Regions from separate parts of the Homo sapiens genome. Here region 1 is linked to region 2. The links come from fine-mapping of genetic effects on gene expression. A gene starts in region 2. The other region holds a variant in brackets. All regions are shown on one strand. Distances are from middle to middle. Region 1 overlaps EMG1 (EMG1 N1-specific pseudouridine methyltransferase). Region 2 holds the start of LPCAT3 (lysophosphatidylcholine acyltransferase 3).

Region 1 (8,000 bases), 38 kb before region 2:
TTGCACCAAATAGTAGAAGGGCTGGAGGACAGTAATGGCGGCCAGCTTGCTCAGGGTGGGGCTCTCTTGAATGAGCCTGGCAGCCTGGGGAGGGAGGAGGAGCTCATCAGCATCTTGTCCCTTATATTCCCCTTCACCCCCACCCTGGAGGCCTACCTGTCTTTCCACAATAACAATGAGGAATTCCATCTGGAAGCAGACCAGGTATCCTGAGTGCAGGCCGTGCCAGAGGGCCAGGAATAGCAACGAGAGACCCTGAGAGAGTTCTTTATTTCCAAGGAACTTGAGTCGTTTGAAGATGTAGCTGGAGAAAAGGGTGGGTGGGGCGACCCTCAAACTGACTGGTCCTTGCATCCCGCCACCTGCCTCTGGGTCCTCACCCTGAGGATTGGATTGGAGTGCTGGTGGGTTCCCACGTGTAGCCCCCAGAGGGTACAGGAGGCAGTGCTGACTGATTACTTTTAGAGATGGAAAGCAGACCCAAGGCGGAGCTGGAGACCGTGTGCGCACGAGCCACTTGGTTCAGCAGCAGTGACTGAGGCTGATGCTGAGATCAGTGGTGAACCAGACACTCTACTCAAGCTGCCCACACTCTAGTGGTGGGGACAAACAAGTAAAGCTGTTGATAAACAGGGCAGTGGAGGACATAAGTCCATTGGCAGAGCTGGAGTAACACCCAGGTCTTAACGCACTTTTATATCTTGCCTTTTTTTCAAATATGACAGTAATGGTTTTTTTGGGAGGGGGGTATAGGTGGGGGTCAAAGTCAGTGTGAGCGACAGGGGGTTCTGCCCAGATGGGAAAGACGCATAGGGGTGACATGGTACACCCCTGCCCTCCAATCTGGGAAGACAGTGGAAGGAAGGAACCAGGGTCCAGGCTCCCCACCAGCAGCTCACCGGGCCACCCAGGCGTTGGTGTTGATGTTGAATGAGGCAATGGTGCCAGTGAAGCGGGGGTTTGTTTCAAAGAGCCACACCTTCATGTTGGCACAGGCATCCCACTTTGCCTTGCCCTTTTCTTCAAAGCCATTGAAGCCCAGGCCCGTCAAAATGCATACTCCTTCCTGAGAGGGAATAGCTCAGTTAGGGCTCTTGCCACTCCCCATACTGGCCCCCATGGCTTGTCTAAATAGGACCTTGTTTCAACTTTTCTACTTACTGTGACCAGCCAACAGGTGACATATTTGTACAGCACAAACTTGCCCCAGATCAGCATGTACATGCAGCGGAACCAGAAGGGGTGGTTCTTGAGGGAAGAAAGCACAGTGCATTAGGGATATCACATGACTAGGCAGTTTCTCTCAGCACTCTTCCTTTTCACACTTGTGGCTGGCTACTTCATACCTGCCTGAGTCCTGCTGCCAGATGCCCTCAATAGTCTGGCCTGATTGCCTTCACAATAGGCAGAGAGGAATAAGCAGAGGGCCTGGAGAATATTCATTCGCCTTTCCCTTGGAGAGCCTCAAGGGCAGCACTGTATTTAACTTCTCTACTGTTTGCCTTCGTTGGCAAAGTGTTTGGAATGAGCATTTGGAATGTTAAGTACAGAGGGGCCCATATTGGATTTTAATTTAAGGAGAGAAACCTGCCCAGAATTACTGAACTGTTTTCAAGCCTTTCAGCTGGGCAGGAGCAAAAGCCAGCACTTCCCCCCTTCCCTTGGTTTCTGAATTCCCTAGAAGTGCCCAAATGTATCAGTCAAGAGAAGAAAATAGGATGGAGAATCAGAAGCTGCTGTGCTCTGAGGGGTCACGTGGATGTGATAAGGCAAGCTAGGAGCGGCTCCTAGAGAAGGCAACGGGTGCTAAATGTGCACCTGGCACAGCCCTGTGCCCGCGAAGGTTGTTCAGTGCTGGCTGATGAACATGTCCCAGCACGGCTGGCATTGACAACTCACAGATCTAGAGCAAAACCAACATGCACTTGTAGATGATATTTCCTACTTCTCTGCTATCTGTAGGGATCCTTGCCTGTCCATTTTCTAGCTCTGGTGCAGTCATGCTGCTGCTGCTTTAGTAGACACTCACGTCATAGTCTTCAGTGAGGAGATAGTCTTCTGTGATGTGGGGGCTGAGCAGTGTGTAGCCCACTAGGTAGAAAAGGCCCAGACTCAGGCGCTTGAGAGCAGGAATGATGCTGGAAAGGAACGAGTGAAGTTCCTGGTCACAGAGAGCAGAGACTATTCCCTTCACCCTCTGACCTTCAGTTATGGAGAGGAGTGTTTAGGGGTGTGGTTGTCTACCTGGAATGGGATGAGAAGCTCTGCTGCCCAAAGTGTTTCCTGTTTCAGGGAAAGATTTCTATGGCTGGCTATGAGGAATGGGGACTGCAAACCTCTTAAGAGTTGTAGGAAAGTCAGGGCAGCAGACAGTGGACCAGTCTTGTGTTTACCCCTCAGGGATGCTACTGATCTCAAGGTCTTGCCAGGTCTCACAATCTCCATTGGGACTGAAAACCCAGTGGAGGTAAGATAATAAAAATAACCACTTTGAATCTGCTCCTTCATTTCTTGGTTGAATTGATGCTGAAACACAGGATGGACAAGTTCTCAGTGAAGGAATTCTTCTGGCAATTAAACTTTTTTTTTTTTTTTTTTTTTACCATTTTAATTTTTATTTTCTAGAGTCAGGGCCTTGCTCTGCCACTCCGGCTAGAGTACAGAGGCATAGTCATTGCTCGCTGTGGCCTTGAACTCCTGGGCTCAAGCGATCCCCTTGCCTTGGCCACCTGAGTAGCTGGGACTATAGGCATGTACCACCTTGCCTGGATAATTTTTTTTTGTAGAGATGGGGTCTCACTATGTTGCCCAGGCTGGTCTTGAACTCCTGGCCTCCAGTGATCCTCCTGCCTTGGCCTCCCAGAGCGTTGGCATTACAGGCATGAGCCACTGTGCCCTCCTGCATTTCCTACTGATAAATATTTTTGAGACAGGATTTTGCTATGTTGCCCAGAATGGAGTGCAGTGGTGTGATCAAAGCTCACTGCAGCCTTGACCCACCTCCCCTGGACTCAAGCAATTCTCCCACTTCAGCCTCCTATGTAGCTTGGACTACAGATGCATGCCACTATGTCTGATAATTTTTGTATTTTTTTGTAGAGACAGAGTCTCTCTATGTTGCCAGGCTGGTCTAGAACTCACGGGCTCAAGTGATCCTCCCACCTCGGCCTCCCAAAGTGCTGGGATTATAGAGGTGAAACCACTGTGCCCAGCCTCTATCTACCTACCTACCTATCAACCTGCCTACCTACCTATCAATCATAAATATATTTCATATATACATGAAAATAGGCTTTAAAGGCAGAAATGTGACTGGTTCAGGCAAAATCCTGTGGCATAAATGTGGATTTTTATGTTTGTACTAGTGTTAGAATGGATAACTGGAAGAACCCTAAACTAAAAAGGGCCCACTCCTGGCACAGAGTGCCTGTTACAACAGTCCAGGGCCTGCATGACTCAGGTCTCTATGCCAGGGTCATGCTGGAGAATGCAGCTTTCAGAAGAGTCACTTCAGAGTGAGTGAAATACCTACACAAACATCTGGACCAAGAGGGGCAATTACCTGTTTGGTATCTTTCCTGGTATGTCA[A/G]TCAGCTCTCCCTGCACCAGCTTCATGTAGTGATTCATTGAGAACTGGGGCCCTACCAAGAAGGCCCCATAGAAGTAGGAGAAACCAGCAACTTCCAGCAGGGAAGGAACACCACGTATGGCATATTTCTGTTGCTCAGAGGACAAGGAATTCTATGCCAAGAAGAGAATGCATGGTTCAGGATAGCCTTGAATCTCCCCACAAGAGCCACTTTGAGTGTTCCCCACCTGTGTGCCCCACTGACTGGGGTTCTTCAAATAGCCTTCTCTTTGGGGGATGACAAATAGTTGCTTCTTGTGGAAATGCGTATGTGTGTGCATAGCTGGCTGTTGCTGCTTTAGCAAATGCCTTGCTGGCATTGATCTCTGGACTTTGTGCAAGAGCTGGATCCTGGGCAAATTAGATTTGTTGATCCTTGCTCAGTGCTATCTGAAAGGGAGATTGCACAGGCTGGGGAATGAGGGAGAGGCTCCGCTCTGGAATTTGGGTTCAGTCTTTTGTTAACAACTTTTTTCTTCCCTTTCATTAAGTCTTGAACCTCTCTGCCGATGAATGGGTACTTACCTGATCTTTCCCTCCGTCAAAGTAGTCAACAGCCAAACCTGAGCAGAGAGAGAACGGATGGGTAGGGTGGTGGGAGAGGACACTGAGGATGTGGCCTGTAGACTGAGTGCAGCCAGAAGTGTATGGCGGGGGGCGGAGGGGGGGTGCCGAGGAAGTTTTTAGTGAGATGGGGGAGGGACCTACATGTAAGGAAGGCAGGCAGTGACCATCACTCACCAATCAGCTTCAAAGTCAGAACACAATGTGGCATTGTCCACTTGATATCGTAGTTGCCGGTGGCAGTGTAATAGTATCCAGCCAGAAGGTAGGCCTAGGAGAGGCAGAAGTATTTATTCTAGCATCACTACTATTTCTTCTCCTTGCTCTGAAATTCAATGTTCTCTTTCCTTTTTCCTTTCTCCTCATCCCATCATTAAAAGCCTTAATAAATTCCTACAAATGGAGGTGCTGAAAACCTGTAATGGGAAGAGCGTTGCTCAAGGCTTCTTGGCAAAATGAGGGCTAAACTGAGATGAGAATTTAGATGCTGGGACCACAGGTGCATGCCACCCCACCCGGCTAATTTTTAATTTTTTTTGTTTCACCATGTTGCCCAGGCTGGAGGGCTAATTTTTGTATTTTTTTTGTAGAGATGGGGTTTCACCATGTTGCCCGGGTTAGTCTCAAACTCCTGGGCTCAAGCAATCTGACTGCCTTGGCCTCCCAAGGTGCTGGGATTACAGGTGTGAGCCACTTTGCCTGGCCTAGGCTTAGGTTCTTTAACTCATTCTAAGTTGCTTTTCTGTCTTGCCTTGAAGTGACTCTGCTCCTGGATAGTGGGTTAAACCAAAGAGCCTAATGGCACAGTATGCAAAGGGTTAGCTGGTGGCCCTTCCTTGAGGCAGGCAAAGAGTTACCATTACAATCTGTGGATGGAACACTTGGGCCTGTGATAAGCCACCTACCTGAAGTCATACTGCTAAGTGCTGGGAGAGGGGTTAGAAATTAGGTCTGCTAATTTCTATACCACAGTCCCCTGCCTACCCCTGTCCCCTGAACCGCTGTCAGCTGTAGCCTGAGCTGCTAAGGGAAAGACGTTTACCATCTGGAAGCAAAAGGTAGTGAGGACGGCAGTGATGGTGCGGCCCATTAGTCGAAGGATGAGGAACTGAAGCACAATACACAGCAGGGAGTGGTAGAGCTGGTTTCCTGGATGCAAGAAGAGAGAATTTAGCCTGGTTTTTACACTCCCACCGTCCTGAGACTTCCAATCACAACGTAATATATAAAGAAAAAATGTTGGCATCAGGATCTTTTTTTTCAGAATAACCTCATGTTTTGGAGGAGAGGATGGAAATTATTTATTAAAATAAAAAAGATTATTAGGGTGTTATTTTATTTCTTTTCTTTTTTTGTTTGTTTTTTTAGAGATGCGACTTGCTCTGTTGTCCAGACTTGAGTGCAGTAGCTCAATCATAGCTCACTGCAGCCTTGAATTCCGGGCTACCACACCCAGCTTGTTACTGTATTTTTGAATGTCTGAAGTGAAGAATGAATCTAAGTGGGGACTGCTTGGCTCGGTCATTCAGTTACATCCACAGCACAGAGAAACTGAGGATTCTTTGTTGATGAGGTATGGCAAGGGTAACCACCCTCAAAATGTTTTTATCTGACAGAAGAATGTACATAAAAGAAAAAAAGGAAAAGTTAAGCTGTGTTCCTCTTCATACAACCCTCTTTGCAAGTGGGAGCATTATAACTTCCCTACCTATTAGATTCTCTCAAGGAAATTTTGTTCAAGTCTGTTCCTTCCAGGTTCCCACTAATTGCGGTGTCACTGCTAATTTAGTTTACTCACCAAAGTTAAAATAAGCAATTGAGAGGCCTGTAAAGGTATGGAAGAGGTGGATGAGGTAGGTCTCCTTGTAGAAAAGGTAATGCCGATAAAACAAAGCAAAGGGGTAACCTAGATGGGGGAAAAGATAAGAAGAGTGTTATTTGTGCCTGGTGCCATCCCAGTTTGGTTTGGAAGTTTATCTGGCATGAAACGCAGCCCAGAGGGAGAGAGAAAAAAAAAACAACATACATTATATGGATGGCAACAGAGAAGGCAATAACGGTATCCCCAAGAACCAAAAGTTTTTTGTAAATACAAATTTTGAACTAAAGATATTAATATTTGATTGAGGCAATATAAAGCTGGGTCCTAAGACTAGGTTTCATTTATAGCTTATGAACTATTGCCAGACATTTTCTCTTACTTGAATTTTAAAAAATGATACAAGGAAGCTAGGCATGGTGGCTCCCATGTATAATCCCAGCACTCTGGGAGGCTGAGGCAAGGGGATTGCTTGAGCCGAGGAGTTCGACACCAGCCTGAGCAACATAGCGAAACCCCGTCTCTATTAAAAAACAAGATACAAAGATTTGAGCGTACCCATCTATGCTCCAGAAACACTCATTTACACTTTGTGATCTATCTTGCTAGCACTGTATTATCAGATTATGAGGAAAAATATAAATTAATATCAGGCTAAATACTGGAATTGCTGACTGCATATATAGCAGTTACAAGTTATGTGGAGATACTCCTCACAGTCTGTAATCTGGGCATCAACCAAGTTATAAAATCCATTTAAGTATACTAAAAAAATGTCTTCTAAAGCCATGATTCAGAGTATAGTCCAAAGGCCATGAGTGAACCACAGAGGATCTTCTGATGGGTCATGAACTGATTATACATGGCCAAGGGTTGCTTATTGAATTAAAAACGGTCAATAAAATTTGGTATTCCTAAACTAAAATTAGCACATTCCATGGCTTTACTGCAGACTCACCTTCAGTGTTCTATCTAGAGGTCTGGCGGCCATGCCTGGCAACATCCCCACTGCACTAGTGCATATGTGGAGGATGGGGATCTCTCAACTGCTTTTTGGAAAGACATTCTGCCTATTCTTTCATTGATTATTCTCTTGAGTTGGTCATGGTTTATACTTTCTGCAATTCTTGCTTTTATTTTTATTTATTTTGAGACAGGGTCTCTTGCTCTGTCACCCAGGCTGGAGTGCAGTGGCACGATCATCGCTCACTGCAGCCTTGACCTCCTGGGCTCAAGTGATCCTCCAACTTCAGCCTCTTGAGTAGCTGGGACCACAGGTGCTTGCCACCATGCCTGGCTATTTTGTAATTTTTGTGGACATGAGTTCTCACTATGTTGCCCAGGCTGGCCTTGACCTCCTGGGCTCAAGGAATCTTCCTGCCTTGGCCTCCCAAAGTGTTGGGATTACAGGCGTGAGTCACTGTGCCTGATGAATTGCTGCGATTCTTGCTTTTAAATTATGTAACTGCAGTTTTTATCATGGGCAATACAGTTTACTGTGAGTTTGCTTAACTCTAAAACGCTTAGAATAGTATCATACAGAAATAAATTGCTCAATTATTTGTTAAATAAGTAAATGCACACAATCATGTTATATGTTGGTTTCTGTCCTTCTAGTCATTTTTCCCCCATACATTAAAAAAAAAAAAAAAAAAAAGGCTGGGCGCGGTGGCTCATGCCTGTAATCCCAGCACTATGGGAGGCTGAGACGGGCGGATCATGAGGACAGGAGATCGAGACTATCCTGGCTAACACGGTGAAACCCCGTCTCTACTAAAAATACAAAAAAAAAAATTAGCCGGGTGTGGTGGCGGGCGCCTATAGTCCCAGCTACTAGGGAGGCTGAGGCAGGAGAATGGCATGAACACGGGAGGCGGAGCTTGCAGTGAGCTGAGATGGCACCACTGCACTCCAGCCTGGGCGACAGAGCGAGATTCCGTCTCAAAAAACCAAAATAAAACAAAACAAAAAACTGTACTGGCTGGTGCA
Region 2 (8,432 bases):
CACTTGAAAATGTGAATGATATACCTAACTCTTCCCTTGGGGTATTTGCATTTAGGGAGGTGTTTTTAACCTGAATTAATCTAATCAGTGGAAAGTGAACCAGAAATCATTTTGGACTACAGGCTTTCTTGGTACCTCCAGCAAGGATTTCCTCCAGTATCCCAGTTCCCTGAGAGAGCTGGGTTCAAGAACCAGGAACTCCACTGCTGAAAGGCTACTGGTTTCTAGGTTACAATACACAGAAATGGTAATAACCTTTGTAAGGGAAACATATTTACAACCAAAATGCACTCCTACCACGCACACATCAAGCTTAATCAATTTATATTTATATGTATGTATTTAAACTGTGCCTACTAGGAATACAATCCTACCCGTCCACATGATGAGCTATACCTGATAGGAGGCAAGTTGAAGCCCCAAGTTGATCTAAAAATGAGAAATACTATGAATTACTGAAGGCAACAGGGTATGTGAGATAGGAAGGCAGGGTGTGGGAAATGGTAGAATGAGCAAGGGGGCTCGGGAGTGTGGTAGATGCATTACACCAAGTGTTTATTACTTTGATGATTGGTGGTAATGAGAGAAGATGAGAGAAGAGGAGTGGGATATGGAGAAAACAATTTCCTAGTCATCTGTATGCCCCGTGACAGTACACAGCAATAGCCCAGCAGGAGTGCACAGGCAATATGTGATTATGTCAACAAACAAAAGTTGAATTCTTTATGTCAACAAACAAAAGTTGAATTCCAAGTCCTAATTCCAGCCCTAACTCCATTTAACAGATTGCCCCTTATAACTGGTTGCTACTTGTGTTACATTCTGAATTTATTGTTGAGAAACCAACAGTTTCCTAACTAATGAATGTAATACAATTTTTTTTTTTTTTTGAGACAGGGTCTTGCTCTATCCTTCAGGCTGGAGTGCAGTGGTGCCACGGCTCACTGTAGCCTCAAACTTCCAGGCCCAAGTGATCCTCCCACCTCAATCTCGGGAGTAGCTGGGACCACAGGCATGGCATGAGCCACCACGCCCAGCTCATTTTTTTATTAATTTTTTTTTTTTTTTTGGAGACAGAGTCTTGCTCTGTCACCCAGGCTGGAGTGCAGTAGAGCTAACTTGGCTCACTACAACCTTCACCTCCAGGGTTCAAGTGATTCTCCTGCCTCAGCCTCCCAAGTAGCTGGGATTACAGGTGCCCACCACCATGCCCAGCTAATTTTTATACTTTTAGGAGAGATGGGGTTTCACCATGTTGGCCAGGCTGGTCTCAAACTCCTGACCTCAAGCGATCTGCCCACCTTGGCCTCCCAAAATGCCAGGATTACAGGCATGTGCCCCTGCGCCTGGCCTAATTTTTTGTAGAGACAAATAAAATGTTGCCCAGGCTGGCCTCAAGCGTTCCTCCCACCTTGGCCTCCCAAAGTGTTACGATTATAAGCATAAGCCGCTGCGTCCTGTCAAATGTAAACACTAATTGCTAATTACAATGTCAAAAATAACTGGGTCAGAAACAAGGATGAAAGAGTAGGAAGTTCAAAGCTGGTGTAGTGCAAATAAGCCTAGACTAGGGTGCTGATAAATTTGGATGATGTCTGGGTGACACTGAGCAAACTGCACAACCCCAGTTCCATTCCATCTTTAAAATCTTACGATTCCACAGAGGAAGAAAAAGGTGATCTTTATTTGGAAGAAAGGAAGATCTTGGTTTGATATGTAATAGGAAAGTAACAATGCTATTAGGCAAGGTTGTTTAAATATGAATTAATGCCTATCCCATTATCTAGATTGGGTTAACACCCTCTGGTGATATTATATATCAGTGTTTCTACTGAATACTGGATAAACGCCAAACTTCTCTCTGGCATTTAAGGCTTTCCACACCTGCCCAACTTTATCTCAAACTTCTCATGGTTCAGACCTCTAACCCTCTGCTCTAGCCCCAGTCCTGTTTCCTTATCACCACTTACAGCTTTTGCTTAATCCTTCCCACTCACCCGCTCCTAAAGTTCTATAACCTTCATAAAACGTTCCAACTGCTTAAATTTTATGTATATATATGTACAGGTACTTCCCAATCTTGGCCCTTCTACAGGACTTTATGGCAATCCTATGTGGTAGGCACTGTTGTCCTCATTTCATAGATAAGGAAATTAGGCCCAGAGGGTTTTGCGGCCTGCGTAGGGTCCTTCAGTTTGTGAGCAGCAACAAGGCTGGATCTGATTTGTTTGCCTTCAAAACCCATACTTTTTTCCATTGTACTATGCTACCTCCATGTATTAAACCATGGAGTGAGGATGCGGTAAAAAAGCCTATAAACCAGTTGTAATACAGCTTGTTGTGGCATAAATTCAGATACACCACATCCTTTGAACCACACGTGTAATAAACGCTTGGAATAGTATGGATCGATTTTAAGGAGGTTGTTAGTCCTGTTTCCCAAGTCCAGCATTAAAATGATATTCCAGGGTAAATGACAGGTAGGTGGCTTGGAAAATAAAAAAAGCAACATGGTATAAAAAGAAAATAGTAGGACTGGGACAGAAAAGAGACGAAAGTATAATATAAGCTGGCAATAAGCAAAACAGGCGCTCAGAATATGAAATATGGAATATGGGGCTGAAAAGGCCGAAAGGGCTAAAGTTAGGGGCCCTATGCCTACCGATGAGATGCGCGCGTGTGCGGGGTGGTTATTAATGACAGAGCAGGACACATGGCCAGACAGTGGAACTCAACAGAGCGACAAATAAAGACAGGTCGTGGGAGCAAGGGTAGAGCCTGGCACAAGAGGGCGGGGGCCCGACTGAGAGGCCAGAGGGCATGGCAGGGGTTGAAGAGAAAGATGAAGAGGTTCAGAGGGCACAGCGCCCCAGACTCGAGACAGGACTTCTGTCTTCCCTCAGTAGCTGTTGGTGTGCTTCAGGATTCACACCCGCACCCGGCACAGCCCTCCCGGGTGGCTCCGGGAAGAGAGGGAGGTCCTGTCCCCATTCCTCCCCTACTCCCCGGGGACTCCGCGAGGGGCGGAGGGAGGCAGGAGGGTCCTTACCCAGGAAGATGGAGATGATCAGCCGCAGCGCCTGTTCTGACGCGCCCAGGGACGTCGCCAACTTGTTAAGGCTCAGCTCCTGGAAACCCGACTGCAGAACCCCCGCCAGCGCCACCACAGTCCCCTCGTCCCCCTCCGCTGAGGACGCCATCTTAACTCCGGGAGCCCCACAGGGACCCCCCAGCTCCGCGCGCCCCGAATGCGGGCAAAACGCTATCGCTTCACCCCCAATTCCGGCTCGGGGCCCGCCCACGGCGTGCGCATTGGCTGGAGGCCCGCCCCGCGGCGCCAGCTCACCCCGTTATTGGCCGACCTGCGCAGAGGGCGGGGCCTAGCGCGGCAAGGTAGGAAGAGGGCGGGTCTGAAGGTTTGTAAGGCAAAGGTGACTCCTGCCGAGAATGCACACGGGGAGGCTCAGGGCTGGGCGGGGCTTGGCGTCGGGACCCAGAGCTGCCATTGGAAAGGTCTGAGCCCGTGGCCCGGCGACAGTTCAACTCCGTTCGAAATGCTCCCAGGAGGAGCCCTCCGGGGCGACCGTCCGGCCGGCCGGTTCGCTGCCTTCCCATTGGCTGAGGCGGGAGCAGGCGAGAGTCTGGACGCGGGGGGGCCGCCCGCGCGCGAGGTTACTCCCGGTCGCCGGCGCTGGGGTTACTGGGGCATGTAACGGGGAGGCGGGAACGCCCGCGCCGCCTTTCGCGCGCCCCCTAACGGCGCCTCCCGGCCCGTTCTTAAATTCTTAGGTTGTTAGACTCGTCGCCTTCACTCCCGGAGGTTCAGCGGAAAGCCCAGTGCCCCAGGAACAGACATTGTCTGCTCCTTTTATTTCATGGATCCCTTTTCCATGCAGTTTCCTGTAGTAAAACATGACCTTCCCCCTAGAGGCGATGAAATTAAGATATGCCTATTTAACACTTATTATTTTAATTAAAAATTCAAATAATTTTGCACTGAGTAATACATGTTTATGATAAAAGTTATAACAGTATAGAAATGTAAAACAGAAGAGTCCTGTTTCCCCTCCCTGCTTTTCATTCTCACTTCCTACAGGTAATCCTGTTAAGATTACGCCAAAAAAAAAAAAAAAAAAATCTGTCGAGCACTTACCATATGCCAGGGACTGTGCTGGGCTTGGGAATAGAATCAGGAGCCCAGAGCCACGGAGTGGGAGGATGCACAAATAATAGCATCAATTAACGTGTTATTGCAAGAGAAGGTAAGTGCTCTGAAGGAAAGGGTCAAGGTTCTGTGAGAGTATGTAACAAAGGAATGCTAAGAGTTTCTTGCAATAACTCTTAGTTACAATAATTTGTGGCGCATTCTTGTAAAATTACAGCTTATACTTCTGTAGCACTTGCACTTTATAAAGCACTTTCATCCGTATTATTTCACTTGCTTTGGCTGCGCAATAGAATATTTATTATGATGATGTCCTCTTACAGACACAGAGGCTTGGAGAAATTAAGAAACTGGGTAAGTTCCTTTACAAGTAAGCGGCAGACAGAATTTAAACCTAGGTCTGTCAAATTCCCTACCCCTACTCCCATTTTGGGCAAGATTTTAAAAAACAAAATATTTCATTCACACGGAAAAGTAGAGGATAATATAACTTCTCCAGGTTAAGAAACAAACATCACCTATACATTTGAAAAGCCGGTATATCCCTTCCTGAGGGCATTTCCCTCCTTCCTTTCTCAGAGGTCACCACTTTGCTGACTTTGGTATTTATCAATCCCATGCCTATTTTAATACTTTACATACAGCATATATCCAGAAAGGAAAATTAGTATAGTTTTGCATGCCTTATATTGGCCGGGCACAGTGGTTCATGCCTGTAATCCTAGTACTTAGGGAGGTTGAGGTGGGAAGATTGCTTGAGCCCAGGAGTTGGAGACCAGCCTGGGCAACATAGACCCTGTCTCTACAAAAAAAATAAAATAAAATTTAGATGAGCATGGTGGAACATGCCTGTAGTCCCAGCTACTCAGGAAGCTAAGGTGGGAGGATCACTTGAGCCTGGGAGGTTGAGGCTGTAGTGAGTCGTGATCATGACACTGCGCTCCAACCTGAAAGACAGAGCGAGACTCTGTCTTGCAAAAAAAAACAAAAATTATATATATAGGCCTGTAATCCCAGCAATTTGGGAGGCTGAGACGGGTGGATCACCTGAGGTCATGAGTTAGAGACCAGCCTGGCCAACATGGTGGAACCCTGTCTCTACTAAAAATACAAAAAAATTAGCCAGGCGTGATGGCCGGCTCCTGTAATCCCAGCTACTTGGGAGGCTGAGGCACGAGAATCACTTGAACCCGGGAGATGGAGTTTCATGTGCGTCCGTGTGAAGAGACCACCAGACAGGCTCTGTGTGAGCAACAAGGCTGTTTATTTCCCTGGGTGCAGGCGGGCTGAGTCCGAAAAGAGAGTCAGCAAAGGGTGGTGGATTATCATTAGTTCTTATAGGTTTTGGGATAGGCGGTGAAGTTAAGAGCAATGTTTTGTGGGCAGGGGTGGATCTCACAAAGTACATTCTCAAGGGTGGGGAGAATTACAAAGAACCTTCTTAAGGGTGGGGGGATTACAAAGTACCTTCTTAAGGGTGGGGGAGATTACAAAGTACATTGATCAGTTAGGGTAGGGCAGGAACAAATCACAATGGTGGAATGTCATCAGTTAAGGCTATTTTTACTTCTTTTGTGGATCTTCAGTTACTTCAGGCCATCTGGTTGTATATGTGCAAGTCACAGGGGATGCGATGGCTTGGCTTGGGCTCAGAGGCCTGACATGGAGGTTGCGGCGAGCCGAGACCATGCCATTGCACTCCAGCCTGGGCAACAAGAACAAAACTCCGTCTCAGAAAAAAAAAAAAAAAAAGCTGGGCATGGTGGCTTACCCCTGTAATCCCAGTATTTTGAGAGGCTGAGGCGGGCGGATCACCTGAGGTCAGGAGTTCGAAACCAGCCTGGCCAACGTGGTGAAACCCTGACTCTACTAAAAATACAAAAATTAGCCGAGCATGGTGGTGGGTGCCTGTAATCCCAGCTACTTGGAAGGCTGAGGCAGGAGAATTGCCTAAACCCAGGAGGCAGAGGTTGCAGTGAGCTGAGATCGCGCCATTGTACTCTAGCCTGTGTGACAGAGCAAGACTCCGTCTCGAAAAAAAAAAAAGAAAATTATATATATATATTTATAACTTCAGTGAAGCCTAAGCATATAGTGTTTATACAGTCCAATTAAACTGCCTTTACAAAATTATGACAGTAAGAGAAATCTGATATAGTTGACTTCATCTTGCTTTTTTTGAGAGTCTTTCTCTGTCACCCAAGCTGGAGTGCAAGCACGTGGTCTTAGCTCACTGCAACCTCTGCCTCCCAGGTTCAAGCAATTCTTGTGCCTCAGCCTCCCAAGAAGCTGGGATTACAGGCATGCACCACCATGCCCAGCTAATTTTTGTATTTTTAGTAGAGATGGGGTTTAGCCATGTTGGTCAGGCTGGTCTTGAACTCCTGACCTCAAGTGATCTGCCCGCCTCAGCCTCCCCAAGTGCTGGGATTAACAGGTGTGAGCCACTGTGCCCAGCCTCCCTCATGCTTTTAACCTCCAAGCTATCTTTGGTCATTCCTGGGCATAAACCAAACTGACTTTGAGAGAAATTTAGTTTATAGTTAAACTTAAAGCAGGGATAATAGCCCTTTCCCAAACTAAGCCACCTTTATAAAACTAATGAAAGGCTGCAAGGTTAGGCTTATGAAAGGGCCCTGAATTCCGCTAAAATGTAGGCATAATTAAGTGATTACCAACCGTTGTTCAGGAGGTCACCAGATTTGTAACTTCCCCAATTACGCCTCTAGATAACATCATATTGTAGAACTTAAGATTGACCTTTTAGGATGTCTTTTCAGATTTTGGCATTTCTGCAAACCCCAGCTGGACTCGTGACTCAGCCAGTCCTATGGACCCCACCCAGAGGTGGAGTCAGGGCATGAGGATCATTTGCCATACCTCTATGATTGCATCCCCAACAAAGCAGCAGCACTTATACCGTAGGCCCCTGCCCACCAAACTGTCTTTGAAAAATCCTAGCCTCCAAATTTTCAGGGAGATTGATTTGAGTAATAGCTTCATGTACCATGTGGCATGGTCAGCCTTGCATCAATTAAGATCTTTCTCTAATGCAATGCCATGGTCTCAGTGAATTGATTTTGTCTGTGCAGCGGGCAGGAAGAAGCCCACAGGGCAATTACATATGGTAGTGTATGGCAGTGTCCTAGGCCTTCACATTCACTCTCACACTCTTCACACTCACTGACTAACCCAGAACAACTGCGAGTCCTGCAAGCTCCATTCAGGTAAATGGCCTATACGGCTGTACCATTTTTAAATTTTTAAATTTTTTTAAATTTTTATTGAGATGGAGTTTTGCTCTTGTTGCCCAGGCTGGAGTGCAATGGCACGATCTCAGCTCACTGCAACCTCCACCTCCCGGGTTCAAGTGATTCTCCTGCCTCAGCCTCCCAAGTAGCTGGGATTACAGGCCTGTGCCACCACGCCTGGCTAATTTTGTATTTTTAGTAGAGACGGTTTCTCCATGTTGTTCAGGCTTGTCTTGAACTCCCGACCTCAGGTGATCCACCTGCCTTGGTCTCCCAAAGTGCTGGGATTATAGGCATGAGCCACCGTGCCCAGCCTTTTTAATCTTTTATACCATATTTGTACTGTACCTTTTCTATGTTTAGATGTGTTTAGATACACACAAATAGTTATTACAATTGTATTATTATTGCTCACAATATTCATTATAATAACATGCTGTGCAAGTTTTTAGCCAAGGAGTACTAGGCTATACCCTTGTAAACTAAAAGTAAAATTCGAAGCCCCCACTAACTGACCTAATGGACCCTCTCCTGGCAAAGCAGACCCCAGAGTAACCTTGAAAACTGAGTTCTTGGTCATGATGGGATGAGGTCAGGCACGCCTCCTTATGCTCACCCCTCCCTCCCTAACCGGTTTAGGCTTTCTAACCTAAGGGCTAAACAGAAACTAGCCCTTTCAAAAGACTCTACCAGTGATATCAACCAACTGTCTGATATTGCTCCTCCTTTTATGCCTGATAAGAGACTCTTGAATATGAAGTGGTTCTGACCAGTCTACAGAGAATGCAGTGAGGGTTTTCATGTTCTCTGCTTCACCTTTTGATGCCAGAGGGCCAAAAACTCTACCTTAGATCATCTTAATGCCACCATTTTTTGAACATGGGGCCCGTGGAGAAGCATGAAGCTCAATTGCACATGAGTATGTTTCTCCTTTCATAAAACTCATCACTCCTATAATGTACTAAATACGTACATTTGGCCACCCCACTCAGCATAAATTTCTCTTCCCTTTGGCC

The links.
Region 1: its variant is fine-mapped to the expression of LPCAT3 in whole blood (TOPMed, PIP above 0.99).

What each region holds. Positions count from the first base shown.
Region 1 is chr12:6,977,442-6,985,441 of GRCh38, forward strand. EMG1 (EMG1 N1-specific pseudouridine methyltransferase) reads left to right here. Exons shown (of 6, transcript NM_006331.8): 6 at 1-2,495. LPCAT3 (lysophosphatidylcholine acyltransferase 3) reads right to left here. Exons shown (of 13, transcript NM_005768.6): 2 at 5,991-6,098; 3 at 5,235-5,341; 4 at 4,370-4,463; 5 at 4,154-4,191; 6 at 3,563-3,741; 7 at 2,030-2,138; 8 at 1,162-1,248; 9 at 900-1,066; 10 at 157-304; 11 at 1-84. Among named protein-coding and RNA genes, the nearest start is that of EMG1, 11 kb to the left of the region's middle. The variant A/G (reference allele first, on the strand shown) is at 3,590.
Region 2 is chr12:7,015,225-7,023,656 of GRCh38, forward strand. It overlaps LPCAT3 (lysophosphatidylcholine acyltransferase 3), which reads right to left and starts at 3,252. Exons shown (of 13, transcript NM_005768.6): 1 at 3,050-3,252. The coding sequence starts at 3,200. RefSeq lists a silencer at 3,603-3,862.